Linked DNA regions of Homo sapiens. The protein of the gene in region 2 interacts with the protein of the main gene of each other region in a biochemical or structural test. Each region holds a gene or a part of one and is shown on either strand. Other genes may lie near its edges.

Region 1 (4,240 bases), about 50 Mb from region 2:
CTGTGGCCTGATGTTAACTTGTTTTCTTAAAGTCAGCTCTAGCATTGTAAATGCATTTTTCCCCACTTAGCAATTGAAGATACAGTTTCTGAAAAGCAGTGAGATAGATACTAATATGTGCTTTCTACAAGAGGCTGGGAAAATTGCTCCTGGCGCGATGGGCATCTGAGGTAACAGAAAAATCTCTTTCCTGGACTCTGCCTGCTCCCAATGGATGCTGTAATTCCTTCACCCATGGCTGAGTCTAACCTCAGAGCTTGCAAAAGAGGAGGATGGCAGATACTGACCCATCAGATATGCCTTTGCATATCACTGAGGGCAACATGTCTCTTGCTACTGTCTACTTAATGGAGGTTTTAAGACGTTAAATCCCCTTAATCTCTAGGTCATGGAAGGCTTGGGGGTATTGTGTCCTCTTATTCTCCTGGCTGAGGGCTTCCATCTTCCCAGGTCCAGCATTTACACACACACACCCAGACACACACACATACACTCTCAAATTATAGGACATCTTCCAAACATTGTCAATCAAAGCCAAAGCCAATTTTCTAAAAACATCTACTGCCCCCAGTAGGAGGATTTTAGGTTGATAGAAAATCTGTTTTGTTTTCACTTAGTTCAGAATGAAGATGACTCGCATCTTAAAATGCCTGAGTGTCATTTCACTTCTTGTGCTTATCAGCTTTACAGAGCAAATAAATGAGGTTGCACAGAGCCAAACCAAACACAACTCCAAACTTCTCCCAGAAAATAATCAATAAAACATAAACAGGTACAGCAAACACATTCAACATGAGTTGATATTTCCAATTACATTTTCTGGGGGAGGAGGGCTAAAAAATACACTGCAGAGAATAGACAATTTATGCTATAAATATAATTGCAAATGCCATGAATTAAAACTGCTGCTGGATAGTTCAAAACAATGGTGTTTTGAGAACCTGACCAAAGGCAGTCTTTCCCAGAATCAGTCCCGTATTCATCAAGTGCACTCATAGAGAGGCAGGGCTCCGTTCTTAATTCCTCCCTAAATATCTGATTCAGACAGAGAAAATGTGTCTCATCTTCCTTCCCCATTCTCAGTTCCTATCCCTTGTCAACGCAAACACAATTTATGCAAATATTCTTTCTTTGTTTCTTTCTTCTTTCTTTCTTTCCTTCTTTTTTTTTTTTTGATGGAGTCTCACTCTGTCGCCCAGGCTGGAGTGCAGTGGCGCAGTCTCGGCTCACTGCAACCTCCACCTCCTGGGTTCAACCTCTCCTGCCTCAGCCTCTCGAGTAGCTGGGACTACAGGCGCGCACTACCATGCCCAGCTAATTTTTGTATTTTTAGTAGAGACAGGGTTTCACCATGTTGGCTAGGATGGTCTCTATCTCTTGACCTCGTGATCTGCCTGCCTCAGCCTCCCGAAGTGCTGGGATTACAGCCATGAGCCATCGCGCCTGGCCCTGCAAATATTTTCATTCCTCCCTACCTCCCCCACTACTTTTGCTAATTTTTGCTAAGGTTTAAAAAAACATACACATTGTATACATGCACCAAAAAATCACATGTACCCCCACAATATGCACAACTATGATGTACTAATAAAAAGTACAAAAGATATATTTTCTGGGAAAAAAAGGAAAATTAATTTGTGATAGAAAATGATTAAAGAAGACAAAAAATGTAGAAATGTACAAAAGAATAAATAAACACCACCCATAAGGCCTCCATCCTAAAACAACTGATATTTCCTTGTATTTCTAGGCTTTTTCCGTGAATAGATTAGACAGGTGCATGTGTGTGTAATGAAAAACACAATAATTCTGTACGGTTATTATGCCTTTTTCTCTGTCATTTTAAAAGTGACTGCGTGATGTTTCATCCTATGGACAGACCATGATTGATGTGTCCAGCCCTCTGCTTCTGGGCGTTTGGGTTGTTTGCTGTGCTTCCCGGTAGCACACAAAGCTGTGTCAATGTTGGCATCCCTTCAGGATTCGCTCCTCAGGATGGGTTCCTAGGTGTGGACTTGCAGGGCTTTGCTGCATGTTGTTGAACTGCCTTCCAGAAACCAGTTTGCACTGCTCCCAGCAGTGAGAGGGAGCAGTAATCTCCCCTCCTGATCCTGTTCCGTGTAACCAATCTCTTCCCCAAGGCTTTCACAGGTGAAATATCAGCTGATAAAGGCTTACAAGTATAAACCCTGTCTCTCCTAGAACTTCAGCATTTTCTGGGGTTCTAAGGAAGGTGCACCTTTTCCCTGAAGCAAAGTAAGATGCTAAGGAATGACAGGCAAGAGGTTGAGGCCTGGAGCCGGGGCTCCTGAGCAGATCCCTGGCACCTGGATTTAGAAGCTGGCCCTGAGGGAAGCTCAGAGGGTTTCAGCCTCTTTGAGACCAGCTGACAGAGTACTTATCCCCTCTGTGAATCAACCTGGTGGGTCCCTTCTGCTGAGACAGCCTCTTGGAACCCAGGCTGAACACAGGTTCACCAGCTGCTCCATAGGGTCCTGTCCAGCCAGCCTCAAGAGGAGATGAGTAACAGGCCCCAGAAAGCACACCTGAGCTTGCCTGCACCTGCTCTTACTTGCACCTGAGCCTACCTGCACCTGAGGTTACCAACACCTGAGCTTAACTGCATCTGTGGTTATCTGCACCTGAGTTTGTCCACGCTTGAGTTTACCCACACCTGAGGATACCTGCACCTGACCTCCCTTCACCTGTGCTTACCCGCATCTGAGCTTACCTGCCACAGCAGTGGAATGGAGAGGGCACAGCTCAGGCTCTTTCAGCCTCCTCCTTGGCCAGGGCAGGGAGCTGGGTGAGGAGGGCCCACCCTTTAAGAGGAGCAGTCCCCATGAGGAGCATGTGAGCACTTGGGCCTGGGCCCTCATGATTGCTGTGAAGCGATGGCCCCATGACCTGACTCCCAGGCCAGAAAAGGAAGCCAGGGCCCCAAGCTTCCAGGCTGTTCTGTGTGGAATCCCACAAAGGCAGCCTTAGGATGTGAGAGAGGTAGGGGAGCTAGAGCTTTTCCTTTGAAGTGGCCCCGCCATGGCCCCCTCCCACCCAGCCGCCCTTCCCTGGCTGGAAATGTCAGCAGGGTTTGCATAATTGAGACAATTGGACATAATGGTTCTTTCAGAATCCCCTCATCAGCTGGGCAGTGTTCGTGCCCCGGGGAGCTGGGAGAAGGCGGCACATGGCACTAATTACTGCTAATCCTTCCTCATCTAAGTTGGGCCTGAGGTCAGGGTGAACCCAGCTGCAAATGCAGTGTGAGCCCCACATGACTCTCAGCCCCTTCTGAGTGCTTCTAATCCCTGCTCTCCCCCCTTCACCAGGAGCTTGCCTGCTTGGCATCCACAGTCACCTGAAAACCACCACGGTGGGAGCTCTGTTGGATTTGCTGTAACAGTATGCGTGGTTATTCCAGCTTTCCATGAGCTTTCTCAGCCCAGGAGGAAAGAAAAAACCCAAACCCTGAACTATCCCTCTCTGCAGAGGGGCTGGGTCTTCCCCAGCATCTGAGGCTCTTGGGCATTGTCCGCCTCCCGCTTCTCACAGAGGAGCAGACAGATTGGACGTAAGGGCAATTAGGGGTGTTCCCATTTTACAGATGAGGACTCTGAGTCATGTGAGAGGGTGGCTTGCCCAGAGAGCAGGTGGGGTGGAGTGGGAGTGCCCAGGTTGTCAAGTTCTGCCCATATGTAGAGTCCTGAAGCTGGAGGCTGGGCTCACTCCCCCACCCAATGCCTGGCAGACAGCCTGGGGCTCAGGGAATCTCTGAACTTCTGACGGAAGCACATGTGCCAGGCCATTTTCTGGGTCTGTCTTTGCTTTCATTCGTTTCTCTCAGGGTCTGTCACCGCAGAGTGGGCGTGCAAAGGGTCTGGTGAGTGGCTCCCACGTGCTTTGCTGGAGCGCGCACAGCCCCTGGGCGCACAATGACCGCAGCAGCCTCCCTGGCCTGGCTCCCGAGTCTTCTTTCTTGAACTGGTGTTGGCTCCTGAGGCCTGAGAGAGTCACGGCTTCAGCGGGAACCCTTCCGGGGGCTGAGGGAGGGTGCTACGTGGCCGGAATTCTGAAGGCACAGTCAGGGCAATCCGGGGCATCTGAAATCAGTCTGGGAGCAGTGGGGAAAGACCACATGGGGAAGTGAGCTGATGGCCGGCACTGCCATGGCTGGGAGGTGTGGAGGCTCTGTGGTCAGCACCAATGGCCAGCCCGACCGGCTGCCAGTCAGTGGCTCTCC
Region 2 (2,680 bases):
GAAGCTTTCTGTCTCCTTAACACTGAGCTGTCATGTTTTAAAGCTTGCTCACATCTTGGCACATTTAAGAGACAGTCACCCCAGGACTCAAAAATAGGGAAGTAACAGTAACGCAGGGGAAACGTTTTCTGTTTGGAGGAGCAAAGGCTGAGAACACTGTGAAAACATTTTGCGCGCACAATAGTAACCTGGGTAAATGCAGCGTGAAGGGATTTTAGTCACACGTGGTCTTTCTTACAAGGAAGGTGGTGGGGGTGCAGATGAGGTTGCTAGAGAATGTTAGAGGATCCCTCTCTGGATTGGAGATAGGGAAAGAAAGTTGCACGGCTGCTGAGGCCCCTTCTAGGTGGCAAGGCTGTGCTCCCTGGTTCTGATGATGTGCCTGGGTGGACATGGCCCCTGTGAGTTTGTACAGTCTTGCAGCAGGATCTAGAGGGGGGATTTCCAGCCAGGGCTGCTAGACGGAGGCCTACTCTTCCATCTTTCCTGATGGCAGGATGGCCTGGCCAGGGCCTGGAAGACAGAGACCTCCTGCCTCCGCCTCAGTAAGACGACAAGGAAAGGCAAATGCCCAAGGGAAAGAAAAGGAAGGCTCTTCTCCCCAGAGTTCCCCATGCAGACATGAGTGCGTGCTCAGTTCAGAATCACTTCTGAGAACTCATCCCTAATGCTGCAGATTTGGGCTGGAACAGATTCACACTGTCTGGTTTCACCGAGGACATGAAACTCCACCTTGCGGGGATAAAGAGAGAAAAACAAATTCATCAAATGGAAGACACATTGAAAGTGTTTTTCCTTAATGCTTATCCTGTTTTTAAACCATTATTTCCAAGTTGACACCTTTTTTAAGGAAAAATAAATATTTTGCGGCATTAAAGCCATATACAAGGTCTATATCAGAAAAATATATTTGGGGGGCTGCAGCACAGGACTGAGGGAGCGGTACATGCTTAAAAGGCAACAGGGCCTGGTTTTCAGTGGCGATGATGATTCTCTATGACAGTCAGGGAAACGTGGTCTCTGAGAGTGATGGGCACATAAAGCCTTGGTGCCAGAGTGCATCGCATGGTGTCCAGGCCGAGTCTCTGTCAGATGGTTAGAGGCCTGGGTCTACCCTGCCAGGAGAGGCGTGTTTGGGTAACAGGCAGATGGAGTTTGGAACACATGAATGGCTCATCACACGCCAACCCTGAGTGGGGCAGGAGGCAGGAAGGGTGGGCTGCCGCCTCTGGTTGGCATTCTCAGAGATGCGCAGTCCATCAGCTTGTTCCAAAGAGTGAACACAGGCCTCTGCGTGCTCCCAGGCTCCTTGGTGTCCCAACAGCTGGAGCTCCTCGATGAGTCACGGGAGTTCTTTGCCAAGAAGTAACGATAGCATTACTCATGGAATTGCTTCACTGCTTTCTGAAGGTTGGCATAAAACCGGGTCATGCTGCGGGGGAAGAAGGAGTCCACCACGTTCTGTGGGAGGTAACCGCTGAGGTCGGTATGGAAGAATGTGACCAGGTTGGTCTTGGTGGGTTCCCTGTGAAGGCAACAGCAGAGCTGTGTTATGATCTGCAGCAGAGGTGCTGGGGACGAGCGCCAGGCAGGTGAGCAGAGCCCAGCCCAGTGGAAATGGCCATGATACAGTGATCGCGTCTCATCCCTTGCTGTGCCCTCCACCCAGGAGTCCTCTCTGGACCTGCTGATTTTCAGGATGGAAACCCATCCTGTCGGGGATGCATTCCACAGCCTCTCCCGGCCTCCAGGGAGGAAGAAGTCCCTACTCCCAGCCCAAAAACCCAGTACCCTGCTGCCCGATTCACTCAGCAAATGCTTTCAGAGAACTCACTTTGTGCCAGGCCCTGAGAGGAACGAAGAGATGCTGCCCTTCACTATTTAGGGTCTGCAACCTCCTGGGGGCTCCTGGGACCCTTTCAAGGGGTCTACAAAGTTAACACTATTTTTATAACAACACGAACATGTGATTCGCCTTCTCTCACATGCATACAGTGGGGTTTTCCGGAGGTTACATGATATGTGATATTGCAACAGACTACACGCACAAGCAGGTATGAGTTTCTGTTAAGCCTGGCATGAAAGAGATGGGCAAAAATATAAAAACAATGCCACTCTTTTCACAGTATTTTTTGTTTTAAAAAAATAGTTTTTTAAAATAAAAATGTTATCTATGTTAACATGCAGTGCATTTTTATGTTAAAATATTTTTAACATTTCTCAAATTTACCAGTTACAATTTCAAATACATCAAATAATGATAGCTATAACCCCCAAGAACAAAGGCCCTATGAAGCCCTCAAATATATGTAAGGGTATAATAATGCCTTATGCCAAAATTTTGAGAACTGCTATTTAGAGAACTGGCGAATAATTTGAGCACCTATGAAGGGATTTTGGCCAAGGGGTGGCAGAAGCTCAGAGGACGGCAGGTGGCACAGATGCTGACTGGAAGTCCAGAATCAAAGGGGCACACGATGTGGAGATGGAACACAACTTGGTAGGGACAGGAAGCGATCTTCACTGTGACAAACTTCTCAACGGCCAGGACAACAAAGGTGGTATAGGCTTTGTGGTGTGCATTTGGCATTTTACTTGAATGCAACTGTCCACTCAGCCTCACCAGGAACCCCAGGTAGCACTATGCCTGCCCATCAGATGTTTCCTGACATCATGCAGG
Region 3 (3,500 bases), on a different chromosome or scaffold from region 2:
TATGTTGTCCAGGCTGATCTGTAACTCCTGGGCTCAAGTAATCCTCCTGCCTCCGCCTCCCAAAGTGAAGGGATTACAGGCATGAGCCACTATGCCCGGCCGGGGTTTTTTACAGACATTTCTGAATGACCCAAATTCTGCACATATTCCTTAATGGGTGGATTTATGTCTTTGTGGTCCCCACAGTACCCTGAAGAGGTTCAGAGACTCAGAACCTGGAGGGTGCTCCATGAAAGATCGTTAACAGTAATGATTCCTAAACTCCCAGAGCCGCTGAGTATTAAATCGTCAATTAGAGAGACATCAGCTGGGGAATCCACCGTGCATGACGCTTAGCACCTGTGCCTCATTCAGCCCTCGCCACTTCTTGCCTGAGGCTCAGAGACATTAAAGAACTTGTCAGCTGGGTGCAGTGGCTCATGCCCAGCATTTTGGGAGGCCAAGGCAGGAGGATCATTTGAGCCCAAGAGTTCACGACCAGCCTGGGCAACATAGCAAGACTCTGTCTCTACTAAAAATTAAAAAAAAAAAAATGAGCCAGGTGCGGTAATGCACGCGTGTAGTTCCAGCCACTCAGGAAGCTGTGGTGGGAGGATCACATGAGCCTGGGAGATTGAGGTTGCAGTGGGCTATGATCGCACCATTGCACTTCGGCTTGGCTGATAGAGCTAGACTCTGTCTCAAAAAAAAAAAAAAAAAAGAACTTGTCCACTTCCCACCATACCAGCAGGGGTGGGAGGCAGACGGAGACCCTGTTCTCTTAGTGGAATCTCAGTTCCCCTCCTTAGGCCAAGCCATCCAGAAGGAGCTCACTCAGACCCAGCGCAGGGTCCAGGCCCTGCCCTACCATGGCCCTAATGAGGCAGAGATTATCCCCTTTCCTGCTATAAAAGTAGGAACAAGACTGAGCTCATTTTCTCCGGGGTTCAAGTGTTTAAATCATTGCCTATTCTTTAGAGAAACGGTGTTCTTCCTGCAAAATAATTAATGACGTGTAAATTTGTATAACTCTCATGATTCCCTCCGTTTTGAATGTGGAAACCATTTGTAGGAGTACCCTGGTGAGAATGAAGTCCCCACAGTCCTTGGTTCACACATAGGAGCGTGACCTTCCGAGCACAGTGGTAGGTGGGCCAGGGGGTGCCCAGGCCCCGGGATCCTGAGTCCTTGGCTCCTTGCAGGCTGGCCGGTGCTTCTGGCGCTCACAGGGGTGCCCGCCCTGCTGCAGCTGCTGACCCTGCCCTTCTTCCCCGAAAGCCCCCGCTACTCCCTGATTCAGAAAGGAGATGAAGCCACAGCGCGACAAGGTATGAAGTCGCCGGCTACTCTCCCAGGCCCTGCCCACCCCGGGGGCCAGGCAGAGACACGGTCAGGGCCACAGTCAGGGTCGCCATGGGTCAGGGGTGAGAGCTGGGAGCTGAACGGGGTGGGGGGGTGGCAACTGGGGCACAACCAAGGTCAGGTCAGGGAATGGTGAGCTCAGGGCCAGCATGGGGGCTTGGGGCCCAGCCTGCAGGGAGACGGCCCTCTGAGCGGGTGGTTCTGCTTTCCGCAGCTCTGAGGAGGCTGAGAGGCCACACGGACATGGAGGCCGAGCTGGAGGACATGCGTGCGGAGGCCCGGGCCGAGCGCGCCGAGGGCCACCTGTCTGTGCTGCACCTCTGTGCCCTGCGGTCCCTGCGCTGGCAGCTCCTCTCCATCATCGTGCTCATGGCCGGCCAGCAGCTGTCGGGCATCAATGCGGTATGTGGGACGGTGGCCAGGCAGGGAGACAGATGAAGCAGACCCAGGCTTCATGGATAGCAACACACAGTTCCACCCACAGAGGCCTGGCCTGGCAGTGGGGCCAGGATCAGTCCAGGCAGAGCCAGATGTCAGGAAGAAACCTCACTCCTCTCTGCCTCCGTGCTCTGCCTCTCCCCACATGCCAGCTTCATTTTTCTCTGTTTCCCAGTCCCCAGAAGGAATGCCTCCTGCCAATAGTCCTTTCCCTTCTATACAAGAGACCAGCTAGACTGAGATGAGCTGAGGTCTCCTGGGTCCAAGCTCAGGTCACCAGGCCTGGGTTGGTAGGCCCAGCCTGTGTCAGGAGCCCATCTTGGGCCCACTTGTCTGTGATGTTTGTGGCATCGCTTTCTGCGACCGTGGCTCTTTGGCTGTAACTGTATCTAACCATGGTGTGAGGGAAGGGTGGAGATCTGACAGAAGCTAAAACACTGGAGATTGGGTGGGTGACCCAGTTGCTCCAGTGGCGTGTCGGGAAGAGGTGGCCTTGGCCTCAGGGATTCATGGATGTTTAACCAGTGATCGTGGGAGGGTAGATGGCCCAGGTGGGAGCCACCAGATGTGGAATAGCACACGTGGCCTTTCAAAGGGCTGTTTGTGCCAATGTCCTTGGCATGGGGCCAGAAGACAGACTCAACTTGCGGTTGGCTTGGCCCAGAGTGAGAGGTAAGAAGTCATTCTTTGGGATCTGAGCTCTTAGAGTAACTGAATGATGGAGGGAAAAGTGCTCTTGGAGGTCGTATGGTCTGACTTCCATTTTATAGACGCCAAACCTGAGGCCCAGAGAGGGAGGAGCTGCGACCCTGGATTCCAGGGCAGCGCCGGGCTCCACCCTGGTGTCCCGACTCCAGGTCAGGCCTCTTTTTCCCACCACCTGCTACCCTCTTCCTGTCCCAGGGTCCCCAACCCAGGCTTGCAGAACTGTGTGTGGCTTGAGTTGAGAAAGTTAAGCCAGCGTCCTGGGTCTTCCGGCCTGTCCTGACAGCCCTGTGTTTTTGTTTAGATCAACTACTATGCGGACACCATCTACACATCTGCGGGCGTGGAGGCCGCTCACTCCCAATATGTAACGGTGGGCTCTGGCGTCGTCAACATAGTGATGACCATCACCTCGGTGAGTGAGCAGGAGGCATCCTTCCTGCTGGAGGGTCTCTGGCCAGGTGCCGCCAGGCAGACAGGAGCCCCACAGAGTGAACTGAGTGCTGGTGGCCCTGGTCCTGGGGTCATTTAAGGGACATGGACTTTAGGATGCACACATACTAACTACCTGCATGACTTTGACCAGAAAACTCAAAATTCCTTCAGAGCCGGCCGGGCGCGGCGGCTCACACTTGTAATCCCAGCACTTCGGAAGGCCAAGGCGAGCAGATCACTTGAGGTCAGGGAGTTTGAGACCAGCCTGGCCAACATGATGAAACCCAGTCTCTACTAAAAATACAAAAAAATTAGCCAGGTGTGGTGGCACACACTTGTAATCCCAGCACTTTGGGAGACTGAGGCAGGTGGATGACTTGAGGTCAGGAGTTTGAGACCAGCCTGGTCAACATGGTGAAACCCCATCTCTATTAAAAAATACAAAAATGAGCTGGGCATGGTGGTGGGTACCTGTAATGTCAGCTACTTGGGAGGCCGAGTCAGGAGAATCACTTGAACTTGGGAGGTGGAGATTGCAGTGAGCAGGGAGATGGCACCACTGCACTCCAGCCTGGGTGACA
Region 4 (3,500 bases), on a different chromosome or scaffold from region 2:
ATTACATCCCAAAGGCCCAGGGGAAGAATGAAAATACCAATAACTACTGGAGATAACTGCAGCTTAAAATCTAAAAGATATATTTTTATTCTAAAAATAATTTATGCCTCAGCCTTAGAAACTGTTGTGGGTGTCGCTGTTGTTGTTTGAGATAGGGTCTCATTCTTCTCCCAGGCTGGAGCAGTAACATGATCTCGGCTCACTGCAGCCTTGACCTCCTGAGCTCAAAAAATCCTCCCACCTCAGCCTCCCAGGTAGCTGGGACTACAGGCATGTGCCACCATGTCTGGCTACTTTTTTTCTATTTTTTGTAGTGACAGGGTCTCACTATGCTGCTCAGGCTGGTTTCAAACACCTGGGCTCAAGCAATTCTCCTACCTCAGCCTCCCAAAGTGCTGGGATTACAGGTCAGGTGTGAGCCACCACACATGGCCAAAAATTTTTTTTTCTTAAATCAACTTATTCCTTAGCTTCCTATTTTCAGAGGAGGAAGCTAAGTCAATATAGTATAAAGAAGGGGAAAGGACACAAAATCATGATGCCAGTAAGTCCCTATTTTCAGTCCTCCACTTCCCCAGGCCTCAGAGATTTAGATTTGACAGAATATTTTTCAAACACTCCACTACAATTCCATATAGTGCTATTTTAAGATGTAAAAAAGAAAGCATCAGGAAATCTTGTTTGGCTAGTGCCATTCTTAAAAAAAATCTGCCGCTTCGTTTCTGTTTTGTTTTTTTTTTTTCTAAAAATGGGTAATTCCAATTCAAGGAGTTACATATTTATGTAAAAACTTGTAGCATAATTAAATTTAAAAGCTCTTCTTAGCGCAAAGCAAGTTGAAACAGATTCCCTATTTTAAGCTAACAATATCAACTTCAACACTGGATAATTGCTGTTTGTTTAAAGTTAGTAGCTTAAAAAATAGAATCAATATGGTACCATTTCATCAAATCTACGATGGTATCCATTGTAAGATGCATCATTTTCATTTTTGTACTACTCAAACAAAACAATGCTGGCAATTAAGCTATGATTTAAGGTTTTCTTATGTCTTGAATTTTTTACCTTATATTTATGAAAACAGACCTTCACACAGAATTTTATCATATACAGCTCTCATGTAAACATAACAAATATAAGCATCATAAATTTATTTCTAAAACTTCACAGAGTTCGAATCTTATGAACCACTTTTCTTTTTTGTTTTTTTGTTTTTTGGTTTTTTTTGAGTCAGAGTCTCACTGTGTCGCCCAGGCTGGAGTGCAGTGGTGTGATCCTGGCTCACTGCACGCTCCGCCTCCCGGATTCATGCCATTCTCCTGCCTCAGCCTCCCGTGTAGCTGGGACTACAGGTGCCAGCCACCACACCCAGCTAATTTTTTGTATTTTTAGTAGAGACGGGGTTTCATCGTGTTAGCCAGGATGGTCTCGATCTCCTGACCTTGTGATCTGCCCGCCTCGGCCTCCCAAAGTGCTGGGATTACAGGCGTGAGCCACCGCACCGGGCCCATGAACCACTTTTCAACTCGAGAGTCATCAATATGCATGTTTTCCTATACATTATCATTCTCTGTGCCATGAGGAGGTAAGTATTTCTTAGAAGTACTCCATTTTTGTCCCTAATATTTTCTTCCAAGAAACTGATACTCATTCAGCAAATTTTGATGATGTCATTTGACATCTCACCAGGTGTCAAAAGAAGGTTTTCGGACAACAACCAGGACTGATATTCCTTTCTCAAATGGTGGCAAAATTGATCTGTTAGTTGAACACTGAGAGACTACACTTGGCCAGTATGCTACTAGGAGAAACAACCAAGTATGTACATTTGCAGGCAATGTGAAATACATTACTACTGCTACCTGGCTGATAGCAATTGTTAATATACCATCAACTCTAAGAGGAATCCCAATCAGAGACATCAAAATGTTGGGAGGAAAGGCACATCTCATGATTAATTCATATTATGCAAAAACAGAAGATCCCATTTGGGACTGGGGTTTGTCTTCACTGTTCTATCATAGATGAATCACTAAGATACATATCTACATATAAAATCAATTAATTTTCTAAAGATCATTATCTGTTCTTAGTAATTAACAAGGTTTATTTTGATTTTGATTTTCAAAACAACATATAAATATGGACAAGGCATCTACTATAAGCTTAAGATTTTCTGGCTCAATGGATGATCTTTTGCAGAACTGTCTGGTTTGGGCAAGGTAATTCCAAACATGCTTTTTCCCCACCTAGGTTCCAGGCAGTATTCTTAAAAGATGCTTGTTTGATCAGCTGGATTTTGGACTTGCAAATTCTCCCTAATTTAATACGTAGTTACTATAAATCAAAACTAAAAGAAGGGTAACTGTAATTCAGGATAGTCTTCCATCACTCCCAGGCTCTTTTTTTTTTTTTTTTTAAGAGCCAAAGCCTCGTTCTGTTACCCAGGCTGGAGTGCAGTGGTGTGATCATAGCTCACTGCAGCCACAGACTCCTGGACTCAATCGATCCTCCTGCCCTAGCCTCCTGAATAGCTGGGACTACAGGTGCATGCCACCACGCCCAGCTAATTTTATTTTTTGTAGAGATGAGGTCTTGCTATTTGGCCCAGGGTGGTCTTGAACCCCCACCCTCAAGTGTTTACAAGCATGAGCCACTGTGCCAGGCCAAGGCTCTTTTTTAGGTAGCAACTGGCAGGCCACTTTTGATTAGATCTAAATGATCTAAAAAAAATTAAAAACTAATCAAACAAAAAACTTTTAGGGCCTGGTACAGTGGCTCACATCTGTAATCCCAGCACTAAGGCCAGGAGTTCAAGACTAGCCTGGCCAACATAGTGAAAACCTGTCTTTACAAAAAAAAAATTTTCTTTTTTTTTTTTTTTTTTTTTGAGACGGAGTCTCGCACGGTTGCCCGGGCTGGAGTGCAACGGTACAATTTCGGCTCACTGCAACCCCCGCCTCCCGGGTTCAAGTGATTCTCCTGCCTCAGCTTCCCGAGTAGCTGGGATTACAGACGTCCACCACCACGCCCGGCTAATTTTTTGTATTTTTAGGAGAGACGGGGTTTCACTATGTTGGCCAGGTCGGTCTCAAACTCCTGACCTCGTGATTCACCTGCCTCGTCCTCCCAAAGTGCTGAGATTACAGGCATGAGCCACCACGCCCAGTCTTCTACAAAAAATTTTTAGATTAGTTGGGCTACTTGGGAGGCTGAGGAAGCAGAATCACTTGAACCCGGGAGGTGGAGGTTGCAGTGAGCCAAGATCATGCCACTGCACTCTAGCCTAGGCGACAAGAGCGAAACTCCATCTCCAAAAAATAAAAATAAAATAAAATAAAATTAGCTGAGCTTGGTGGCGTGTGCCCAGGAGTTTGAGGTTTCAGAGCTATGGCTGTGCCACTGCAATCCAACCTACGTGACAGTGAGACTCTGTCTCAAAAAAAAAACAAAAAACTTACCATGAGCTTTAAAAGTCTTCATATTCTTTGCTGCTCTGC
Region 5 (4,181 bases), on a different chromosome or scaffold from region 2:
TTCTCTTACATGTGGAGCTATTTGAGTGGTTTGTAGGCCATGGAATATAGGCAGAAGTGATTGCAAAATTGTGTCTTCATTATGTTTTCTTATTTCTGCTCCATCCTGGGGATGCCTCTTTGGATGTAATGCTTTTACTTTTCACAGTGTCCAGGATTATTGCCCTCTTCATGTGGGCTACAGGTTTGGGTGGTGGGCTGAAAGTGTCTTGATGAGACAAGATCTGGTGACCCTGAGTTGCTGGGCATAAGCTGGGCCATCTGGTTTGTGCCTGGTTCTGGCTTCCCTGGGGGCTGGAGGGGCAGATGGGGAGGGGTCAGATCCTGGTTGCTGTGAATTAGAGATGAACAGTGACACGCCATCTTACATCACAAACTAGAAACCATGTCAACTCCACTCTTCCCTTAGGGCTGCAGGTAATTAGTCTCAGTGATCCTAAGTTTTGAATCATGTAAGAAAGTATCCCTTGGGCAATAGGTCTACCTGTATATTAGGAAACCCTCCTGCATATACCGTTTTAAAAAGATGCATACGCCAAATGCTGCAACGTATTATTATGTAAAATTTAAACAGTATTCATGAGGCTCCTGTTGAATCAGTCAACGTATTTGTTTTGACAAATATCAGAGTCTGCAAAGAAGTATCTCAGACCCTCCCCTAGCAGTGTATTGTGATGATGTTGCCAATAATACAGAATATTAATAATGACAGCAATAGCTCTTATGTTCTTATCGGTATGTTCCAGGCCCAGTGCTAAGCAATTCTTAGTTACTTCCCACCAAACAGGTGGCTTTGTCTCATTTATTTACTGGAATTTAAAGAGTCTGGTTCTCAAATGTTTTGCAGCATCCACTTTTCCTGGACAAGTTAAGCAGAGGGCTGGGTCCCACCCCCCAGAGTACCTGATTCAGTGGGTGGGGACTAAGAACTTGCATTGGTAACAAATTCGCAGGTAATGCTGATGTCATCTGAAAATTACTGATAGGGGAAATTTTAATATTATCATATTAAATAATTATCTTCATTTTCCTTAGGAATCTCCATCTCAAGGCTCAGAGAGATGAACTGCTGGCGCAGGGATACACAGGGAGGAAAGTCAAGGCGTGAGTTGCCTGGTAGAGACATTTGAGAGTGGGTCATTGCCTCAGATAATTTCCACGGAACTCTGTGTGCCTCTCCTTTAAGAAGAGGTGAAGCCAATCCCTTTCTTGGGAGCCTTGAGAAGCCGCCTCACCGAGAACAGAAAGTGCGCTCCAGGTACCACCCGGATTCCGTCAAACTACATTACCCAGAAGGCAGTGCTACAAGGGACGGAAGCCGACCCCAAGCCATAGACGGAAGGCGCAGAGGGGCGTTCCCGTAGCGGCGTGGGCGGGACTTCCGGCGTCCAGTCTTCGTCCGCCGTTAGGTTGCGGCTGCTGTGGTTGCCAACGCTACACTGGGTAGAACGCCAGACAGGGGCCACTTTTCGAGACCGAGTAGAGACGGACAGTGAGGAGGATAGGACCCACTTACACGCTTTTATGTCAGCCGCGATCCCACCCCCACAAGCGTCTGCAAAACCCTTCCTGGGGCCTTGGCGACAGCCCTGTGTCCTCACGGCGCGCAGAGGCGGCGCCGCGAACCTTGTGTGCATTTTACACGACGGCGGGGACTGAGGTCCCTCGCAGCCCAGAGCCGGAGCCCGGGGTCGGCCGAGCCCGCAGGACCGGCTTCCTCGCCGACTCTCACGGCCTCACCCAGCCCCCTGGGCCCATGGCGGCGCCGGCGTTGGTGAGTGGAGGGTTCCGCAGCCCGCGCGAGCTCGGGTCACCGCCCGCATGCACCCATCCGCTGTAATACGGCGGATGCCGGGACTCTGTGCTTCTCCCTTTTGATGCCCTAGGTTATGGAGATCCCGGGAGAGGGTGAGGTGAGAGGGCAGGGCTAATCACTTCCTACCCAGGGTCCTGAATCCAGGACAGGAGTTGTAAGGAGAGGTCCCTGTCTCTGGCTCTAACCTGGAGCTGTCGCCTCGCTGCCCTCGGCCTCCATTCCCTCGGGTCTAAAATGCGAGTCTCAGTAATTTTCTCTGTGGAGGGAGCTGGAGAGGGTACGCTTGTGACGTGGGTCCTGTCTTTCACTGCTCGGAGAGCATCACTCTAGGTGCCGTCTTTGAAGAAGGACTCTCTAGGTCCTGCTGTTGTTTTAGGGGATCATTCCAGCGGAAGTCTGGCCCTACCAAAAGCTGGGAGAGGGAATGAGAGCCTCGAGGGCAAGAGGTGAGGCGGGAGCAGCATTTTTGGCAGGAGGCTAGAAGACAAGAAGCTCATTGGATTTATCTTTGCAGATGCCGTCTGTTTATTACAAATGAATCTGGCTTGCCGCCTAACAGCAGTGAATCCGTGCTTCTGTTTAACACATGCTCTTGTATTTGAAAAGCAAATCCAGCACAATATTCATTAATGACAGTGTACATGAATGTATGTCTCTTGGAGTGTGAGCACATAAGGCCCCAAGTTACTCTCCAGCATGTCACACTGTTTACTCCTCGTAGCTCTGATCACCTTCAGGAGTTGTCTATTCATTTTTCCTCACCTGGTCTGTTCTCTAACTTCAATCTAACCTTGTTCCAGGGTCTCTTCAGAGAGAGCTTCCCTGGTTGCATCATGTAAAGTCTCTCCCAGTCTTTGTGGTCTTCTCACTCTTGTGTTGTTTTCTAGAGTCTTCTGACTTTATCTTGATTGTTTATTGCTGAGGATCTGTCCCCCAACCCCAGAATGTCAGCTTCTGTTCTGTTTTTCATCCCCAGGCCCAAAACTATTCTGTTCTGGGCCTGTACCACTTAGTCGATAAGTGATTAATGAATGAGATTCTATCCTCTGGGGCTCCCATCCTACTTAGATTTCATCTAACCCAACCCCACCCCATACCCCACCATGGCTGCAAAGTCACTGCCCAATCCACCAGGACACTCCCCCTGCCATTCTTCTCTCCTGCACATGCCAAGCTCATTGGACGATTTTCTCTGTCACATTGTCGCCAGATCTCTGCAAGGCTGCTCCTGGATGTGTGCTGCATTGAGCTCTCCTAGGGTGCGACAGGAGCAAATAGGAAAAATACTAACAGCAACAAATAGTAGCTGGTCTTCACTGAGCGCATTGATAATGTGCTGAGAGGCAGTTTCTGTGTATTACCTTATTTAACGCCCTTCTTCTCAGAGTAAAATTCTTTCATTTTCCTTTCTTTACAGAAGAGGAACCGGAGACTCAGATTAACTACCCAAGGTTGCATAGCTCATAAGTAACAGAAACAATCCAGTATGTCGAGCATAAAAGCCTACATTTTTTATTTATTTATTTTTTTTGAAAGAGGGTCTAGCTCTGTTGCTCACACTGGAGTGCAGTGGCCCCATCGCAGCTCACTAGCAATCCTCCCCACTGAGCCTCCTGAGTAGCTAGGATTATCGGTGTGTGCCACCACACCCAGCTAATTTTTTTTATTTTTTGTAGAGATGGGCTCACTGTGTTGCCCAGGCTGGCCTCGAACTCCTGAACTCAAACAGTCTTCCCACTTTGGCCTCTCAAAGTACTTACTGGCATGAGCCGACGTGCCCAGCCAGAAGCTTACATTTTTAACCAATATTTCACCCACAGTGGATTGGAGATCCCTGGGGGCGACAGCTGAAGTACACTTTGCAAGGGGAAGGTGCAGGCCTCTCTCTAGCAGGTGGACATTGGAATGAAGGGGTCTTTGGGGAACCTTCCCGGCAAAGGGAACTGCATGGACAAAGGCAGAGGCATGAGGAGACATAGAGTGACACCAAGGCTTGTCACCTGCTGACGTGTCTTGTGTGATCATCTGATGATCATCATGCCAACATCCCATTCTCACCCAGGACAGACGTGGTGCTTAAGGCAGCTGCCAGGTTCTTAGAGCCACAGCCTGCATTGCCCTTGGCCACTTGTGTTACCTGTACCTAAGGGAAATGTGCTAACCGTGGCTCAGGAAGAAAAAGAACAGGTTGGCGCTCATTGTGGGATATTCCAGGGAGTCTACAAGTCCCAGCTGCCTGAGGGCAGGGAAACTTTGTTTGAGCTCTCCCAAGCCCTAGGCAGTTGGCACCTCTTCAGGTGCCTCTTCTATGAGGCAAAGGAAGGCTCTGCTCTTCCTTCCATACCTCTGGCAATATTTTCAGGAGT
Region 6 (3,500 bases), on a different chromosome or scaffold from region 2:
AGGTAGTATATCAAGGTTTTATATAGATTTACTGAACAAAACAGATTGGAATTAATGATATTCTCTGACAGTCATCTTCATGAAAACTTCCTTATTTTCTATTAATTTTCTATTTGTAGTAGTGGAGGTTAATTCATATTTCAAGGTGAAGAGCAAGATTTGTAGACTCAAATACCTTCTGCTTTTAAATAAGCATTGTTTTTCTTGGATGAAAAATTCATAGTAGTGATCAAGAAGAATATATTCACTTATGTGTGTAGAAGGTAGTTAAAGAGCACCTACTATGTTCTACGCTCTGTGCTGGCTCCATGAAAAGGACAGATACAGACATTTCCTTTGGAGCTGAGAGTAGAGTGAGAGTTTTTTAAAATAATTACCCAATGGAATTATACATTCTCCATAGACTATATTCAGGTTAACGTTTGATCACATTAAAAAATCTTTTTTGAAAACCTTTTATCATTTCATCTTTCCCTATGGAAATTGAAAAAAAACATTTTATCACCTCCTCTTTCCCCACAGAAATTCAATGGAAAGTTCCTATAATTCTCTGTGCTCCAATTTATATAGCATTTTTGGGTGAATGTAACATGGGATTATGTGGCTCCTCTGAAACTCTGGGAATTACCTTAATTTTAGCCACTGGAAGGAGACAGGGTCCTGCTGATCATTATATAAAGTAGTATTCAGATTGATGCATAGGTCTCGTCTGTTTTGGTTAGGATGACTGCATCATGGACATCATTTTCAGCTATACTCATTGTTGACCCTCTTGTAGACCTGTGAGAATAGCAACTAAGCCTTGGGATCACTGACACACCTAAAACCCTGCCTAACTAACTGAAACACTGAGGACCCCATCACCTCAGATATGAGATTGTCTTATTGCATCCAATGAAGATTAGTAGAACTACAAAAATGGTTTCTCTGTATGTTTATTAACAGGACCTTAAGCACACCTGTGCCACAAGGCCACATTTTCCATGATGTGGATAAAACACATCTTTGTTTACCATGGATGCTATTTTTGTATGAAATAAAACATGAGACATTAAATAACATGAGACTTTTTTCCTGTATTGACTCAAATATTTATTTGCTGATGACCTAAATGTTGGTTGACATTTTTTATATGCATGAACTTTTTCTATTACGACAAGTGCTACTCATAGTTTGCAGAATTGCCAGCAGCAAATGACTACTGAACTTGGACTATTAACCTGCCAAGTTCTTGTTTTAATTTTGACCTTTGTATAATATCTTGTGTATTCCAGTGTGCAATGTACTGAATGATTCACATACTTTTGTGCCTCTTTGGGTTGTTTTTCAGGTTGAAATAATCATTTTGAGGCTATAGGAGCTAGTGTTTCAGTGTACATTTGCCCTAAATGCCACTTTCCCATGCCCAACTACTACCACTGCACAACCACTAACTTTAAAATAACAGAAATAATATTTAAACTAGTATACTCCACAAAGATCGAATGCAGTTGACATCTCTGGAATAAAGAGCATGATTTTTAAAGCTGTGAGATGGAAGAACTTTCAGAACATGGAAAACCCCGTCACGGTGATAGGTGAAGGTATTTGGTGAAGAAAGATGGGAATAAGATTGTAATATAGGAAACAGAAATTAAATGGACCGTAGCCTTTTTGAGAAAAGTAGCAAGAATAAGAGAATGGGCAGGATGTGGGCAGGGAGTGGTTGGAAAGTTTAGAATGGGGAAGTCACAATCCTAACAGATGTTTTTCAAGGCGTGGTGCCTAATGCCATTCCTACAGTATGCTCCCCTATTTGAATTGTAAGTGTCCATCCTTAGATAGGCACGGTTACATGGGAGACATGGGTTGGTCTTGTCATAATGTAGGCAAACCCCAAAATTGGGGCTCAGCCTGGGGGAGTTCTTGGCTCTGCCCAGGAAAGAATTCAAGAGTGAACCAACAGTGAAAGAAAGCAAGTTTGTTAGCGTAACAGTGTACAGCCAAGTGACCACTCCAAAGGCAGAGCAGGGCTATCTCATAGGCAGGGTAGCACAGAACAGCACTAATGGATTGCTGGCTAGTTATATTTATACCCATTCTTTTTTCTTTTTCTTTGAGACAGGGTCTTGCTGTATCACCCAGGCTGGAGTGCAGTGGCATGATCTTGGCTCATTGTAGCCTGGACCTCCTAGGCTCCAGCAGTTCTCCCACTTCAGCCTCTCAATTAGCTGAGATTACAGGTGCATACCACCACACCCAGCTACCCAGATTTTTTTTTTTCTTTTTTCTTTTTTTTTTGTAGAGATGGGGTTTTGTCATGTTGCCCAGGCTGGTCTTGAGCTTCTGGGTTCCAGTGATCTTCCTGCCTTGGCCTCCCAAAATGCTGGGATTGCAGGCATAAGCCACCATGCCTGGGCCCCCACTCTTAATGCTAAATATAATTAAACAGGTTATTCATGAACTTCCTGGAAAAGGGGTGGGGAGTTCCTGAAACCATGTAAGGTTAACTTCCAAGTCATTGCCATTGCATTTGTAAACCGTCATGGTGCTGGTAGGAATGTCTAATGCAAATGTATTATGATTCCTGGTCCTTGCTGGTTTGGATTGGTTTCTTTGCTACATCCTGTTTTGATCAGCAGCGTTGTGAAAACAAGTCCTGCTGGTCTCCCACTTCAGTAGGAACAAGAATTCTGGTCTACTCGAAGTTCTTCTCTTTGTAAATTAGTCCATTGATAATCTGGTTATTTTACTTTAGTTTGTGTACATTTGGTTTTTAGTATTTGTCTTCACTGCCAGATTGCCAGGTTTGTGAGGGCAGGCAGGATTGTAATGATTGTTTGTTTTCTCCACGTTGCCACATTGCCTGTCACGGCTATCTGGTACAAAGTAGGTAGTCAATAAATGCTGAGGGAATGCATGTGATGACAAAACCAAGTTTCTCTGCCTTCAAAACTGAAGACCAGAGCCGTAGTGAATTCACTACAGTAAATGCCACTTTATTCAGCTATGTGGGAGCCAAACCTAGCGACACCTTTATGTTCTATGCCTTCTAAAATACAACAGCCTGGAAAACTCCTGGCTACAATGGGTGCTCAGTAAATAATATGTTTGTTTTACTTCCATTTATTCTGGGAATGATTACTCAGTTTCCATTTTCACTTCATCAAAATGATCCCTGGGTTTTAGACCTATTCAGTCTTCATGATCAAAAGAAGAATTTGTTGGTCAGCAACTGACTTGTTATGAGTCAAGTTATATTAAAATAAAGTCATCTTTGAGATTAATAATGGGCAATACCAATGGCTGGTTTTTAAGCATGATCTTGTATTAAGCTGCTTTTGAGTGAGTACTGGATCTTAATAATTATTTTTAGTTGTGAAATACTTATTTGGCATAAATCATGTGCTACCTTAGAAATTAGTATTTGTAAATTACAACCCTATGGCGTATAGGTACTGTTATTGATTTGTTATCCTTATTTTCCAGTTGATAAAAACTGAGGTAAGGAGAGGTTAGGT
Region 7 (3,500 bases), on a different chromosome or scaffold from region 2:
TACAATATGGATGAACCCTGAAAACATTAAGTGAGGGAAAGCAGTTGCAAAAGATGATATATATGGTTTCATTTATATGAAATATCCAGAATATCTGAAATATCAAGAGATACAGAAGTAGATTAATGAGGGCAGGGGAAATAGTGAGTGACTACTGCTAATGGGGAGGTTTTTTTGGGGGAGTAATGAAAATGTTCTAAAATTGACTGTGGTGATGGCTGTACAACTCTGTATATACAGACTGTCCCCAACATACAATGTTTCAACTTGGGATTTTTCAACTTTACATGGTATCCATAAAATCATTCTGTTTTTCACTTTCAGTATGCAATAAATTACATGAGATATTCCACACTTTATTATAAAATAAACTTTGTGTTAGAGGATTTTGTAGGCTAATGTAAGTGTTCTGAGCATGTTTACAGTAGGCGAGGCTAAGCTATGATGTTAGGTGCATTAAATGCATTTTCCACTTACAATATTTTCGAATTGCTATAGGTTTATCAGGATGTAACTGTGTCGTAAGTAGAGAAAAGTAGAGAAGCATCTGTACTAAAAACCAATGAGACTGCGCGTGGTGGCTCATTGAGCCCAGCACTTTGGGAAGCCGAGAGAGGTGGATCACTTGAGCCCAGGAGTTTGAGACCAGCCTGGGCAATATGGCAAAACCCCGTCTCCACAAAAAAAATACAAAAAATTAGCCAGGCATAGTGGCACACACCCGTAGTCTCAGCTACTCAGGAGGCTGAAGTCGGAGGATCATCTATCTGAGCCTGGGAAGTCAAGCTGCAATAAGCTGTGGCTGCACCACTGCACTCCAGCATGGGTGACAGAGTGTGACTCTGTCTCAAAAAAAAAAAAAAAAAATTAAGTCACACAGACCAATGAATAACTACATGCTACATACCAATGAATTGTATAATTTAAAGGAGTGAATTTTATGGATACGTGAATTATATTTCAATAAAGCTGTTTTAAAAAAGAAAAGCAGGTTCAAGTCTTTGCCATGTTAAAAATCTGTTAACCCTTTATCACCCTCTGCTACCACCTCTTTCTATTCTCCCCTTCATGGCTAAAATTGATTTATTTATTATAATCTACATATGCTTTTCCACTCTCTAACCTCAACTCCTCAACTCAATGAAACCTACCTCGTCCCCCAACCATTCTATCAAAACTGTTCTCACACAGTTATCAAATTGAATAACCTCCTCAATACCAAATCAATAGACTCTTAATAACTTCTTTCGCTCAACTTTTCAAAGCATTTAAAGTATGGCTTTCCTTTTGTTTAGGCCAGGGTCCCACTCTGTCACCCATGCTGCAATGCAGTGGCACAATCACAGCTCACTGCAGCCGCAACCTCCCAGGATCAAGCGATCATCCCACCTCAGCCTCCTGAGTAGCTGGGACCACAGGTGTGCACCACCACAGCCAGCTAATTGCTTTTTTTTTGCAGAGACACCAGTCTCCCTATGTTTCCCAGGCTGGTCTCAAACTCTTTGGCTCAAGCAATCCTCCCACCTCAGCTTCCCAAAGTGCTGGGAGGACAGGTGTGAGCCACTGTGCCTGAGGCTTTCCTTTTTTAAAAAAAAAAATTAATTTCTATTTTTTCTTGAGAGTTGATTGTGAAGTATAACTTCCTTTAAAAATGATCCCAGCCCAATGCAGTGGCTCACACCTGTAATCCTAGCACTTGAGAGGCCAAGGCAGGCAGATCGCTTGAGCCCAGGAGTTCAAGACCAGCCTGGGCAACATGGCAAAACCCCATCCCTACCAAAAATACAAAAATTAGCCAGGTGTGGTGGTATGTGTCTGCAGTCCCAGCTACTTGAGTGGCTGAGGTAGGAGGATGGCTTGAGCCCAGGAGGCGGAGGTTGTAGTGAGCTGTGATGGTGCCAGATCCCACTTTGGCTTCTATGACATTTTCTCATGATTTCTCTACATCTCCAAACACTTAGGAATTTCCTTTCCCAGCTCTTCTTCTATCTGGCTTTAAATGTTCTCCACAGCCTATTTCCAGAACTATTTTATGTTAACAAACTCTTCTTATTTGGTGTTATCTAAATCAAAGAATTCAGATACCACTCATAATATAGCCTGTTATACTGTACTCCAAATCCACATTCACAGTTCCATAGCAGATGATTCCACCTGGATGTTTCACAGATAACTTCCACTCAATATGTTCTGAAGCTAAAATACTGTTTCTCCTCAAATGTGCTTCTCTTCCTGAATTCCCCATCTCAGTATATTTTACCATTGTCTCTTCAATCACCCAAGTTAAAATCCAAGTCATCTTATTCTATTATTTTTCCCTCACTCCCCATATCCAATTGTTGCTGAATCCTATGAATTCTACTTTCTAAATATTTCTATTACCCTCCTCCTCCATAACCCCTCTAACATTGCCTTAGTTTGGACCCTTATTTCTCACTTCGATTAGTGCAAAAACCTCCTAAACAGTCTTTCTACATCCATTCTTACCTTCTCTCCATCCCTTCTGAAATCCTTACTCTACAATTCCAGAATGATCTTTCTAAAATAAAAATCTTGGCCGGACATGGTGGCTTACACGTGTAATCCCAGCACTTTAGGAGGCCGAGGAGGGTGGACTGCCTGAGCTCAAAGTTTAAGACCAGCCTGGGCAACACAGCAAAACTCCATCTCTACAAAAAAAAAAATACCAAAAAATTAGCCAGGTGTGGTGGCGTTCACCTGTGGTCCCAGCTACTCGTGAGGCTGAGGTGGGAGGATCGCTGGAGCCTGGGAGGTCGAGGCTGCAGTGAGCCATGACGGAGTGCGGTGAGTGCCACTTCATTTCAGCCTGGGTGACACAGTGAGACCTTATCTCAAAAAAGTAAAAAAAAAATAAAAAGAAAAATCTTATCATGTCTCTCTGTTCATTAAAATACATAAACCCTATTGTTATCTACAGGAAAAAATGGTAAGGTCCTTGGAATGGCACGCAATACTTTTGAGGATACCTGCAACCTCATCTTCTGCTACTTATCACCACAACTAATGCTACAGCTACAGAAAACAACTTCCCATTCTCTTCCATATTCTGTGCTGACTGCACCCCTGGCCCGCGCGTGCCTTTCCGCCTGCCGCGCCCCAGGACACCCCAGCTCTGGGCGCCACCAGGGAGCTGCTCGCCCTGACCAAGGCCGGCGGCAAACCCTTCTGCGCCTGAGGCAGGCTGGCCTCTAGCTCGGTAGGAAACCCGCGCTCAGGCGGACAGCGCCGACTCTTTTTACTGAGTTTCCAGAGGAAGACTAGCCCAGCTACCGCGAAGCTGCCAATCCACCGGAGAGGGGGCTTCTGAACCCGGACTCCTGGGAACGTCGACAAGCACGGCACTACTACACCGAGGCCTCCACCGCCTGGGCCTGAGCACGGCCGGGCCATTCCCAAACTCGGGACGCAGGAGAGGATCTCGGAGAAGAAGAGGCCACCCTGAAGCACACAGTTTACGTCAAAAGTTTACATGGAGAAGG

What was found.
Region 1: the proteins of IL16 (region 2) and TRPM1 interact in a test that uses a peptide from one of them, tested with the Homo sapiens proteins (one large-scale study listed by IntAct).
Region 3: the proteins of IL16 (region 2) and SLC2A7 interact in a test that uses a peptide from one of them, tested with the Homo sapiens proteins (one large-scale study listed by IntAct).
Region 4: the proteins of IL16 (region 2) and APPL1 interact in a test that uses a peptide from one of them, tested with the Homo sapiens proteins (one large-scale study listed by IntAct).
Region 5: the proteins of IL16 (region 2) and ZNF599 interact in a test that uses a peptide from one of them, tested with the Homo sapiens proteins (one large-scale study listed by IntAct).
Region 6: the proteins of IL16 (region 2) and LPAR1 interact in a test that uses a peptide from one of them, tested with the Homo sapiens proteins (one large-scale study listed by IntAct).
Region 7: the proteins of IL16 (region 2) and RALBP1 interact in a test that uses a peptide from one of them, tested with the Homo sapiens proteins (one large-scale study listed by IntAct).

What each region holds. Positions count from the first base shown.
Region 1 is NC_000015.10:31,098,926-31,103,165, forward strand, and holds the start of TRPM1 (transient receptor potential cation channel subfamily M member 1), read right to left. Parts: upstream 2,801-4,240; 5' UTR 2,732-2,800; intron 1-2,731.
Region 2 is NC_000015.10:81,311,879-81,314,558, forward strand, and holds the end of IL16 (pro-interleukin-16), read left to right. Parts: 3' UTR 1-1,377; coding exon of another isoform or gene 1,378-1,525; 3' UTR 1,526-2,180; downstream 2,181-2,680. Other genes in the region: STARD5 (stAR-related lipid transfer protein 5), read right to left, coding at 1,378-1,525. UniProt on the Homo sapiens protein: Interleukin-16 stimulates a migratory response in CD4+ lymphocytes, monocytes, and eosinophils. Primes CD4+ T-cells for IL-2 and IL-15 responsiveness. Also induces T-lymphocyte expression of interleukin 2 receptor. Ligand for CD4.
Region 3 is NC_000001.11:9,012,924-9,016,423, reverse strand, and holds part of SLC2A7 (solute carrier family 2, facilitated glucose transporter member 7), read left to right. Parts: intron 1-1,181; coding exon 1,182-1,307; intron 1,308-1,555; coding exon 1,556-1,743; intron 1,744-2,788; coding exon 2,789-2,899; intron 2,900-3,500. UniProt on the Homo sapiens protein: Probable sugar transporter. Even if its physiological substrate is subject to discussion, it is able to transport glucose and fructose. Does not transport galactose, 2-deoxy-d-glucose and xylose.
Region 4 is NC_000003.12:57,230,729-57,234,228, reverse strand, and holds part of APPL1 (DCC-interacting protein 13-alpha), read right to left. Parts: exon of another isoform or gene 3,465-3,500; coding exon of another isoform or gene 3,462-3,464; intron 1-3,461. UniProt on the Homo sapiens protein: Multifunctional adapter protein that binds to various membrane receptors, nuclear factors and signaling proteins to regulate many processes, such as cell proliferation, immune response, endosomal trafficking and cell metabolism.
Region 5 is NC_000019.10:34,770,416-34,774,596, reverse strand, and holds the start of ZNF599 (zinc finger protein 599), read left to right. Parts: upstream 1-1,381; 5' UTR 1,382-1,755; coding exon 1,756-1,773; intron 1,774-4,181. UniProt on the Homo sapiens protein: May be involved in transcriptional regulation.
Region 6 is NC_000009.12:110,937,471-110,940,970, reverse strand, and holds part of LPAR1 (lysophosphatidic acid receptor 1), read left to right. Parts: exon of another isoform or gene 1-1,059; intron 1,060-3,500.
Region 7 is NC_000018.10:9,478,513-9,482,012, reverse strand, and holds part of RALBP1 (ralA-binding protein 1), read right to left. Parts: exon of another isoform or gene 3,491-3,500; intron 1-3,490. UniProt on the Homo sapiens protein: Multifunctional protein that functions as a downstream effector of RALA and RALB. As a GTPase-activating protein/GAP can inactivate CDC42 and RAC1 by stimulating their GTPase activity.